3 linked regions of the Homo sapiens genome follow. The protein of the gene in region 1 purifies or fractionates together with the protein of each later gene. This does not show direct contact. Each region holds a gene or a part of one and is shown in the gene's direction. Other genes may lie near its edges. The genes, in order: EVA1A, P2RY1 and PACC1.

Evidence for each region.
Region 2: the proteins of EVA1A (region 1) and P2RY1 purify together in Homo sapiens (co-immunoprecipitation; one large-scale study listed by IntAct). This does not show direct contact.
Region 3: the proteins of EVA1A (region 1) and PACC1 purify together in Homo sapiens (co-immunoprecipitation; one large-scale study listed by IntAct). This does not show direct contact.

Annotation. Positions count from the first base shown.
Region 1 is NC_000002.12:75,558,069-75,562,231, reverse strand, and holds the start of EVA1A (protein eva-1 homolog A), read left to right. Parts: upstream 1-1,292; 5' UTR 1,293-1,552; intron 1,553-4,163. UniProt on the Homo sapiens protein: Acts as a regulator of programmed cell death, mediating both autophagy and apoptosis.
Region 2 is NC_000003.12:152,838,905-152,841,939, forward strand, and holds the end of P2RY1 (P2Y purinoceptor 1), read left to right. Parts: 3' UTR 1-2,535; downstream 2,536-3,035. UniProt on the Homo sapiens protein: Receptor for extracellular adenine nucleotides such as ADP. In platelets, binding to ADP leads to mobilization of intracellular calcium ions via activation of phospholipase C, a change in platelet shape, and ultimately platelet aggregation.
Region 3 is NC_000001.11:212,380,192-212,383,920, reverse strand, and holds part of PACC1 (proton-activated chloride channel), read left to right. Parts: intron 1-3,729. UniProt on the Homo sapiens protein: Chloride channel gated by pH that facilitates the entry of chloride ions into cells upon exposure to extracellular acidic pH. Involved in acidosis-induced cell death by mediating chloride influx and subsequent cell swelling.

The DNA of each region.
Region 1 (4,163 bases):
ACCCAGGGCTCCATAGTCTAATATACAATCAGTCCAATATACAGCATAATATACAGTCAGTGGTCTAGCAGCCAGTGCTTCCAAATTCTAATGCACATTTGAATCATCTAGGGATCTTGTTAAGCTGCAGATACTAATCCAGTGGTTCAAGTGCGGCCCGAGGGTTTTCATTTCCATAAAGCTTCCATGTGGTGTTAGTACTGCCAGTCTCTGGACCACACTTGGAGTAGCAGCTCCAGAAGGCACTCTGGGATTCTAGTCATCCACGTGGTCACTGGCTACTCTAGCCAGAGGCCTGGGAGTCACCTCTCTCCTTCATCCTCTCCTCATCTTCTCCCTTTCAAGCCCTTGGTCATCAGATCTTGTCAGTTCCATCACACTGCTTCTAGGAGCTCCTCTCCTTTCCTAACGGACTGGCACAATATTTTCCTCCCTGTTCCCCACCATCACTCACTGCCCTGGCTGTGCTCTTTGCTAGACCGCCTCCTGAAGGCTTTCTTATTCCGTCTTCCCTCTGTCCAAGCTTTTATTTTGATTCTGTAGAAGGCTCTTTCACTCCGTGACCCATCTCTTAAGAGACCACCGCAACCCGGGACCTGTTCTCTCCCTGCACTCTTCCCCTATGACGATTGTATAGGAACAGGGTGTCCCTCTAGTTGTTTCTGCGTTTCCAGCCCCCAGCTGAGCGCCCATCACTCTCAATAAAATACTTGTTGATTTTAACAAACAAAACCCCAACCCTGAAAGAGAAAGGCCAAACAGAGGCCTCAGCTGCATTTCTTCCGATAAAAATGAACATTCCTTCGAGATTATGCATCAGGCTTTAACTTCCCACTCAGAAAAAAAAAAAAAAAAAAGTTGATCAAATTTAACAAAGTAAGTGGTTATTTCCTGTCTGAGTTGAGTAGCTGAATACAGGCTCAAAGCAGGCGACGGGACAGGAATGAGAGGATGGATGCTGGCAGGGGCTTGGAGGTCTGCTTTCAAATCTGGGCTCGTCCCAGCAGGGGGAAAGCCTGGAGGACCGGGATAGGTTGGGGACTGCCGATGGGGAACCTCCCCGGTCCTGCGGACAGTCGGCAGCGCGGGGAGGCAGGCAGGAGTTGGGAGCGTGAACTAACTTGGCGCGGAGGGAGGTGCCGCACGCCGCAGCCGTTCAGGTTTCGCGTCTTGCGGGCGCCCACATGGGCCGCTGGCTTGCAGAAGGGGGCGGGGGAGAGGGAGGGCAGGTCCGGAGCCAAGCGGGTGGAGGAGGGGGGAGATCGAAGGAAATGAGACAACCTTTTCCTCCCACTGACTCGGGCTCCTGCAGCTTCTGCGGGGCTTGGCGCCGCCGTCCGTGAGCACCCAGGCCGGGACCCCACATCCCCAGGCCAGCCCTGACCCCGGCGGCCCCTCCGCCGGGATTCCTTTCCGAGGTACTGGTGCCGGCCCAAGACCCGGGCAGCGCTTTGTCGTGTCCGCCCCTCAGTGATCAGCTCCGGGTCCCCCTGCTCGGCCCCGCGCGCCCCAAGCGCAGTCCCCGGAAGTGCGCGCCGGGGCCCCAGCAAAGGTAAGAGGTGCCCGAGAGCGCTCCCTGAACTCTGGGGGCGCCCGGCATCCCCAGCGGGCTCCGGCTTCTCCGAAGCGCCCTCTTTTCGGAAACACCCAGAGCACTTCTGACCTGAAGCAGCTGCTTTGTTCCCAAGTCCCTGCCCAGGTGTTGTAGGCTGGGTCCCACAGGGAACTCTGCTTCCCAGCGCTTTCTTTTTTGCCTCCTCTTCCTCCCACTTTCCTGTTTCTTCTCTCGCCCCCCCTGCTTCTTTCTGGATAGAACAACTCTCAACTCCCTGCCTCTGCAGCCCAGCTTCGGAAAGCAGGTCGTTCCCAAATCTAGCGCTTCTCTCCTGTGCCTCTGGGAGCTGGGCTGAGCCTGACTGGCTTCTATCCCAAGCCTGCGCGGGGCGGACCTGCCAGAAATGTACGTGCTGCACCGTGGACTATTTACCTGGTTTGTTTCGGAGGCAGCCAACTCGCCGCGCGCATTTGGCGACCCCCAGGACCCCGAAAGCCGAGTGCATCAGGGAGTGAAAGGCTGTTGGCGCCCCCTAAAGTCCCAGTGGGACGCTTTGCTTTTGGAGAGGGGCGCGCAGACAGTCCACGCTGCTCTATCTGGGAGGTCTGCGTGGGGGTCCCCACCCCTACTATTGAGGGGTAAGGGGAGGTGTTGGCACGCAGTACGGAGCGCGTTGGGACATGGAGGAAATGAGGATGTCCTGGAAGGAGAGGAGTGCCAACCACATCGTGCTGGCTTGCCATGTTGTTCTTATTAACTGCCTGAGTTCTCATAACAAGCCTGTGTGTAGGGACTCTTACCCCTATTTTACAAACGGGCAAAATGAGATGGGGCCACACAGCTAGCTAGGAAAGGGCCCAGCCAGGATTTGGGTCCTAGCTGGTCTATACCACACATACACTTCAAGTCCAGCCCTACAGAAGATTCTTCTTTTTAGTCTGAGCAAGAACCGTCCCCCCAACTCCCCCGCCCCCCCCCCACCTCCTTTCTCATAGTACAAGGGACCAGGCTTTTTCCGTTTTGACCTAATATACCTTGATTATATTCAAACCCAAACTACTTATTATCTACTGTCCTCTGAGTTCAGCGGCAAGCACTGAGGTTTCACCTTTGAATCTTATTAATTCATCCCCTTCTTGTCATCCAGTCTGTCACGAAATGTGTAATACTGTTCAGAAGGCTGGCTTGAATCTCCTTTCCATAAAGGCAGTCAAGCGCAGTGGCTAAGAGCCCGGGCCCTGGAGTGAGACCACCAGCTTGAATCCTGGCTGGGGCCTTCCTGTACCTTTCTGTAGCTGGATTTCCTCATCTGTAAAGCAGGGATGCTAGGGCTTAAAGTAATGGTTTTCAACGGAATTTTGATTTTACTTCCCAAGTGACATCCAGCAATGTCTGGAGACATATTTGGCTGTCATCATGTAAGTAGAAGAGGATCTTATTCATCTGGTGGGTAGAGGCCAGGGATGCTGCCACATCCTGTATTGCACAAGACATCTCCCCCCTCCCCCACTCCGCTTCCAAGATTTAAGAATTATCTAGCCTAAAATGTTAATAGTGCTGAGGTTGAGAAGCCCAGGTTTAATGTTTCACTTCATGAAGAGTGCCATTATTTCCAGCTCTCATCCTTTTATCTGCTCTAGTTTGGCTGATTATACCAGTCTCTGTCCCAGTCTTTCCCTCCATTCCAGTGCCAGAATTCTGTTGCCAAATCCACAGCAGGTCATGCGGCTATATTGCCTTAGCACCCTTGTTGGTCCCCTATTGCTAGCAGAAGGGATGGGAATTGGGAATCTGCAGGTGTTTTACAAGCACTGAAGGTAATTCCTCTGCATGTTAAAGTTTGAAAATCACTGTCTTTACAGAATAAAATGTAACCCCCGACCTTGTACACATGGCTCTTCACAACTGGCCTCACCTTATGCCACTTCGTCAATGTTCCTGACATTCCCCCAACCCACTATTCTTTTGGTATTCTAGGTCCTGACTTTTTGGAATGCCCTTCTTCCTCCTTGGCTGGCAATCAATCTTTGAGACTAGAAGTTAAGTCTCCTTTTGGGTGAAGCATCATTCTTCAGTTCCTACAGACCATTTTGTTGCTCCCTGCCCTGCCCCAGGTTGGGGGAAAGCCTCAGCCTCAGCCTCAGCCTCCCCTCTCCCCTCCTTTTTTTTAAAAAATAAATATGTATCTCTTGCAGTATTTTGTTTATCTCTCCCCTGGTCTTACATACTTAGAATCTAGCTTAGTGCCGTCGATGCTCACAGTGATGGTTTCAGGCTTTGGCGTCAGGCTTCTTGCGTTCAAATCTCAGTTCTGCCGCTTATTAACTCTGTTAAAAGTTAATTACTTGACCTTGGTCAAGTTGAATCAGTCTCTCAAAGTCTTCTTGGTAAGAAGAAATAGCGTACCTTCTCTGCAGACTAGTATGACTAACTAATGGAATAATAATCATTCATCTTAATACTGAGTGCCTACCTAATTCCAGGACATGGTTCAAGTTTAGCATTTTATACATTTTTACTCATTTAAAACCTATAATGTCCTTTACAGTTACTACTGGTATTGCCCTTTTTTCCAGACAAAGAAACAGAGGCACAGAGAGGCTAAGCA
Region 2 (3,035 bases), on another chromosome or scaffold:
CATTACTTTATTGACCTTGTTAAACAAGATCAATATCATTAAACTGACCAAGATGGAAATTACAGGACTTGTACCAGACTTGAACTTGTAGCCTAATGATACACATTTTTACAATATTTCTTCACCATTTAGTTTTCTTTCTTTTAGGTCTCAGGATGCTCAGCTTAATTTAGAGTATGTGTTAAGTACATTGTTTCAGCGTCCAGAGAATTTTGTGAGTGTGGATCCAGTGAGGAGGTGAACAGTAACTAGAAATGCTTGTTTACTACTTGGCATGTTTTTTCCAAAGTGTTTCTTCTTTAGCTTCATACATCACATATGGACACTGATGACATGTGAATGCATGCCACATAGTAACAAGAATGATCTTGCCAACTCCTTCCAAGCCAAAAGAAGCCTCTGGGAAGGTGTGCCAATGGTGAAAACGTACAGAGGGTCAGGGTGAAGCAGTGATCTCTATTGGCTGAAAAACTGATCAGGTCATATGATGATTGAAGTATGTTTATTGTAAGGGCAGAAATGTGTTGGCATTTGGATAAAAAACTGCTAACATTATAGAACTTATTACCTAACAAAATTTCACACCACAAAAAATATTTTAATGGCAAATTCAAGGTGTTTTATTGCTTACAAATCAGCATCTTTGACTCTTTGAACATCAATTTGTGTTTACATTGAAATGACAAAAAGACAAACTAAGAAGAAATACAGCATGCAAGTTGGAATTCAGAGTTAAAACCATGATGTTGCCGCTCAGCCAGCTATGTGACTGTTGACCCTTTCAAGAACACACATGGATTTAAAAGTTGGATGACATCCATTGTTGGGGCCTTGGGGGATATGGTAAAGCATGAAAACTAAACAGCCAGGAGCCTGTGAAATCTGCTACTGTATTTTCCAGGACTTCATTCCACTCCTTGGCTAAAAAAATCTTGGAAGTTTCACAGATTATGATGTGGACCTGTCACCTGTAAATTGTCTCAATCTACTCAGACAAGACACTAAACTGTCTTTGGATACTATAGATGTCAGTGCTTATAGCAGCTGGAATTTGGCTAGTGACAATGTTTAAAGATGTAATACTAGTTAGTATCTATTGAAGCTTAAACTTTGCTGGTCAGGTTGTAGCTATTGTAAAAGTATTTATTGAAGAAGCTCACAGTCCTTCAGTTGTACAGACTGAAAAACTTTCATGAAAGATCCAACATACTAATGTAAATTATATTTATTACAATGTATGATATTAATGTGTCAAACTGGTGTATTTTACAAAATATATAATGCATACATAAATAAGAGTTGTATATTACAGTGCTTTTCAAATATCAGTGTCTTGGAATATTTAAGTCTTCACATTTTTTGGTCTAAAATATGAAAATGTTTCATGATACAAGTGATTAATTTTCCCTAGTAGTGCTTTTGCATGTTTGCCTTTTTATTTAAGTTTTTTTCTATATAGACACAATTTGGTGTCAGACTATCATAAGATCGATAGTGAATATAAAATATCTTAGCCAAATGGGGTCTGTATTGTCTACATTTTATATATTAAATAAAAGTTTTTGTTGTCTTTTCAGGAGGTTTAGAGTATTGTCACTAAATATGATCAAAGCTTCCCTTTCCAAATGCAAAAGTCTTGTCCTACATTTAAAGTTGATCTGTCATGTTTTAGCAGTCAAGTGGGATGGGCATTATATAAACAACGTTACAATGTAAGGAAAATCTTTAAGGAGATGGGGAGAGAAAAAGGCAGCTGGTATAATCGGTTACTGCTGCTTAGTTCTACTTAATTTTTTGTGTTGCTTCTTCTTAAGGTGAGATAGCATAATCTTAACTGTTTTGAGATGGAATTTTAAAGTAACACACTACCAGCGAGTTCAACACTGCTATTGATTTTAATCTGTTTTTTTTTGTTTAGTTGATAACTTAAATTCCAAGTTTCATAGTGATAATTGTATATTATTTGGCTGCTGAATTCTGTTAGAGTTTTTTATTCTGTTGTACATTGTATTATACACATAATCACAAATTAATATGAAGGTGAATATATGTTACATATCAAAATTTGTGAATTTGAATTATAGTATGTTTTAGTGCTATTGCAAAAAATGTTTATTTTTATATTATCTGTGATTTTAATATAGATGATTGAACTAGATTTCTTTTTGAGTGATAGTGCCATTGAATGAGCAGTATGGAAACAGTGTTACTTGATATTTTGAGCTTTCTCAGGTTTATCTAAATCAGTGGTAGCTTAACAAAACCCAGACTAATTGTGTGTAATTGTATTTTTAATAAAAGGAAAGTACATTTCCTATAATAGCATAGTACTGTTTGCATGTAAGAGTATGCAAAACCTTGTGTGTGTGTGTGTGTGTGTGTGTGTGTGTGTGTCTTAGTGTGTGTAAGGCATGGCAGCCAACTTTGTATCTGCTATTTTTAGTACGAGCAGAGCTTCATAATTGTGGTCACTAGAACTGTACTTACCATGGACAGTTAAAACTGAAAAAGACTCAATAAAACTATGAAACATGGTTTGATGGCTTCTATGTTATTACAGTGTTAATACTCACAAGTTTTGCCAAACTTTAACAAATAATGTACAGACTGAGAAGTACTGTAAAACACATTGAACTAATTCAGTTGTTTTTTAAGGTGAAGACTGGGCTCTAAAAACTACGGTGTTAAAGGTAGAATCCTGGTGCAAGATAGGTAAAATTATCAATATTTGATATTCAATTGCCAATAGGAATGTGAGCTAATTTTTTATTGTAAAATACTTCATGCTACCTTAATGTGTGCTTCTCATACTGGTGTTCTGTGTTTAAAATGTTGGCTGTAATTTTTTCTCATCTAATTTTTAATCAGGGTAACCACGCTAATAATTCTTTGTGGATTCTATTTATTAGCATACATCACCTGCTTTTTCCAGGTTTGTTAAAAAATGTATTGTGCCACAGTGAAAATGGTGTACAATGAAATGGGAGCATGCTTAAAGCATTACCTTTTTTTTTACCTCAGTTGAGAAGGTAAGT
Region 3 (3,729 bases), on another chromosome or scaffold:
GTTGCCTCTGGGTAAAAGACCCTGGAACCATTCTCTACAGAAGCGAAGGGAAGATGATTCTTTGTGTAGGCATAGGAAACAGAGCAGACTTCTACAATGGAAAAGGAGAGAGAACTAAAGGAAAGGACTCTTCCCAGAGTAAAACACACTGGAAAACTCAGTGTGCTTCCACAGAGCATACTTAGCTTTCCCATGCAAGGGAGAGGCCTATTAGAGAAACAGAAATTTACTACTTTGGAAGAAACCAAAACCCAGACCTATACTAGTCAACCTAATCCTTCATTCATAAATAAGAATGGAGAATTAATGGTCACCAGACATTTGCATGAAACCAATGACAGAAAAGGACCAAGATGAACAAATAGAATGGACTCTAGAATAGGGAAGTAGAAGCTAATTAAAACAAAAAGGAAAGCAACTTTTAAACAATTCCAATGTGGAGTTATATGTATAATAGAAGCTCTTTGTCTGGATTCCCAGCTCCCTTCATCTCTCTGTAAAACACGCTAATGAAAACTCGTGGCTGCTTCCGTCCCACTAGGTGCCTATTCTCTGGATGCCCTCCTCTCCTCCCCCAGTTGAAGTGTATGCTTAGGAGGAGTCAGTGAGGGTCATTTCCAAACCTGTGTAGGCCAGTTGCACTTGTTACAATAGTTACATAATTCGACTAAAGAGTGTAAAAACCCTTGAAATAAGGGCACAAAGAGAGAGTTGTTTTTATGGAAATGAAGTTGAATGCAGCTACTGCCCCCAAGTCTGAGTGTTGGTTCATCTCCTCCATCAATTTCTTGAAGTCCACAAGCTATAAACTAACAGAGAAGTTATCTCCTCCCTATCCACCAAGTTTCCTACCCAAACCAGCATATAGCAGTGGAGGAAGAATATGATGAGAGCAGTAGAGCTCCCATTTGGAAAAGGAAGAAGGGGAAGGGCCCGCAGCTCTGCTCTGCAGCAGTGGTGGAACCCTGCAGGGTGGGACCGGTGAGACGCCTTCTTGGCATGAAGTAAGCTCCTTGGTTTGAACCTGTTGCTGCCCTCAGAAAGAGACTCCTGTGTGCTCTGGCCTCGTCCCCTGGGAGCTTCTGCCTTGGTGGTAATGCTCTGTGGCCATATCTGAAGTGGACATTAGAAAATACGCCCTCCCTGGTGGCTGCACAGCTTGTGCCACTCACTTCCTGCTTGTGTGAGCAGCTTTAGGGCTAAACAATTGCAAACTTGGAGGGCGGCTTCTTACCTGCCTCCTGCCACTGCCTATGTTTGCAGTGAGATTTCAGAAATGTGTAGGCTTCTGGCTGTTCGCATCTAATCAAGTTCATGTGAAAGTGACCCCAGTCGAGGGTCTCATCCTGTTGTATTTGTAAAATCTTCGGAATTTTGCTGATTTTCTGGTGCTTTCTTTCATGCTCTCAATTTAATGGTAGTTATTTTTTACCAAATGCTCTGCTCTGGCACAATAAGGTTTGCCACCTTTCCAGCCTGCGGGATCCTTATCTATTTCCTTACTGCCCGCCATTTTCCCACTGCCCAAATGTTTGGCTGTTCCCTCATTTTGATTTTTTTTGCAACCATAAAACACTCCAGCCGGGCGTGGTGGCTCATGCCTGTAATCCAGCACTTTGGGAGGCCGAGGCAGGTGGATCACGAGGTCAGGAGATCGAGACCATCCTGGCTAACATGGTGAAACCCCGTCTCTACTAAAAATAAAAATAAAAAAATCAGGCGTGTGTAGTGGCACGTGCCTGTAGTCCCAGCTACTTGGGAGGGCAAGACAGGAGAATCGCCTGAACCCGGGAGGCGGAGCTTGCAGTGAGCCGAGATCACGCCAGTGCACTCCAGCTTGGGCAACAGAGCGAGACACCGTCTCAAAAAAAAAAAACAAGAACACTCCAGTGTCAGCTAACAAATTGTGTATTAGTCAGAGTATAGGCTAAGCTACCAAATAAAAACAAAACCTGCAAATACAATGGCTGAGATGAGGGAGAAGCCTCCTTCTCTCTCTGAGAACAGTCCTGGCATGCAGGCCGTGTGGCGTAGTGGGCAGTACTGCCTCATAGGATAGTCCAGCCATGACTTTTGTCTTGTCACTGTGCTGTCCCCTGGGCATTGTTCTGGTCCATGTGGGCAGTGTGTGTGTGTGTGTGTGTGTGTGTCACTGTGCTGTCCCCTGGGCATTGTTCTGGTCCATGTGGGCTGTGTGTGTGTGTGTGTGTGTGTGTGTGTGTGTGCAGTGTGTGTGTGTGTGTCTGTGCACATGCCCAGGCCTGGGAAGGTGGAGGGCAAGCAGTTCCCTTTTCAGGAAATGGGGTGGAGTTGAATGAGTCCCCTTTTCTTTCGCACATTAGGAACTTTATCACGTGGCTACATTTGAGGGCAGAGATGAGGCTCCAGCAGGGGGAGTGGATTCTGCTGAAATCTGGGTTGGGAAAGCCATTCTAGTACTAAAGGAAGAAATGGATAATAGAAACCAGGGACAGTGCTTTCTGTTGCACACTTAAAACAAAATGGTACAGAAAGGTTGAAAAATAAATAGATGGACAAAGCTGTCTTGAGAAGATGCAACGAAAACCAGAAGTGACAATATTAATAGTGTGGAATTCCACGTGCAAAAGTTTGCAAGAAGGATGTTTAATATTGATAAGAGGTTCAACTCCATACTCTCCACTAAGACGACTGAACAGTTCCAAAACTTTATGTACAAAACAGCATGACATTTATATATTTTAAGCAAAACCCGTTAGAAGTAAAAAATACCATCACTTTAGAGCACGATTTAAACACCCCTCTCAGAAATTCACAGATCAAATAGACAAAAACTAGAAAGGATAAGAATTGAATAGTGCAGTTAATAAATTTAGAGTATGTATGTGTGTGTATACATGTGGGGGCACAAAACTTTGTAACTGACAGTGTACTCACTCTTTTTCAAATCTCTGTAGAGCATTTATTTATAAAAGTTGATGTAAAAGACATTTTTTTCTAAAATTAATCTATAAATTCAGTTTCTATCACAGTTAAAAGTCCCAGTGAATTTTTTTGTGGAACTAAGCAAGCTAGTCTTAAAGCATACTTAGAACACGTTCAAAAATAACCAAGACAAGTTTGGGGATGGGGAAGAGTAGTAGGGAGAGCACCTTCCCAGATCTCAGAACAGTGGAAAAACCACAGGAATCAAAGTGGCACAGTACTGGACAGAGACAGACAAATGTGTGGGCTCTGCTAGGGCCAGAAGCAGACATAGATATTGGTTCTGCATGGAATTTAGTATAGGATAAAGGAGGGAGGGGAAGAGGCTTCAAAACCTGTCTCTATGCATTGTTTGGGAAGTAGGAGTTAGAGCCCTATTTCACACTATATACAGAGCTTAAAGCCAGGTATATAAAGTATCTAAATGTAAAAAAGATTAAAAAGTGCTATAAAGAAATAGAGGAGAATATTGATATAATTTTGGCTTTCCTCAGCAAGCAAAACCCAAAGCCGTAAAGAAAAGGATTTAAGGTTTTACTACGTTAAATTTAAAGTTTCCATAGGACAAATGACATTGGAAACAAAGTTAAAAGAAAAATGACAGACTGGAAGAAAAGATTGGCACACATAACAGATGAAAGTGATCATCCTTGCTAAATTAAGAGCTTCCATAACTCAAAGAACCAATGAGAAAAGTGGACAGAGGATGAGCTGCATTCAGCTCTGGTTGGGCATCATATGGGGAAAACTCCCCAGGAATGAGCA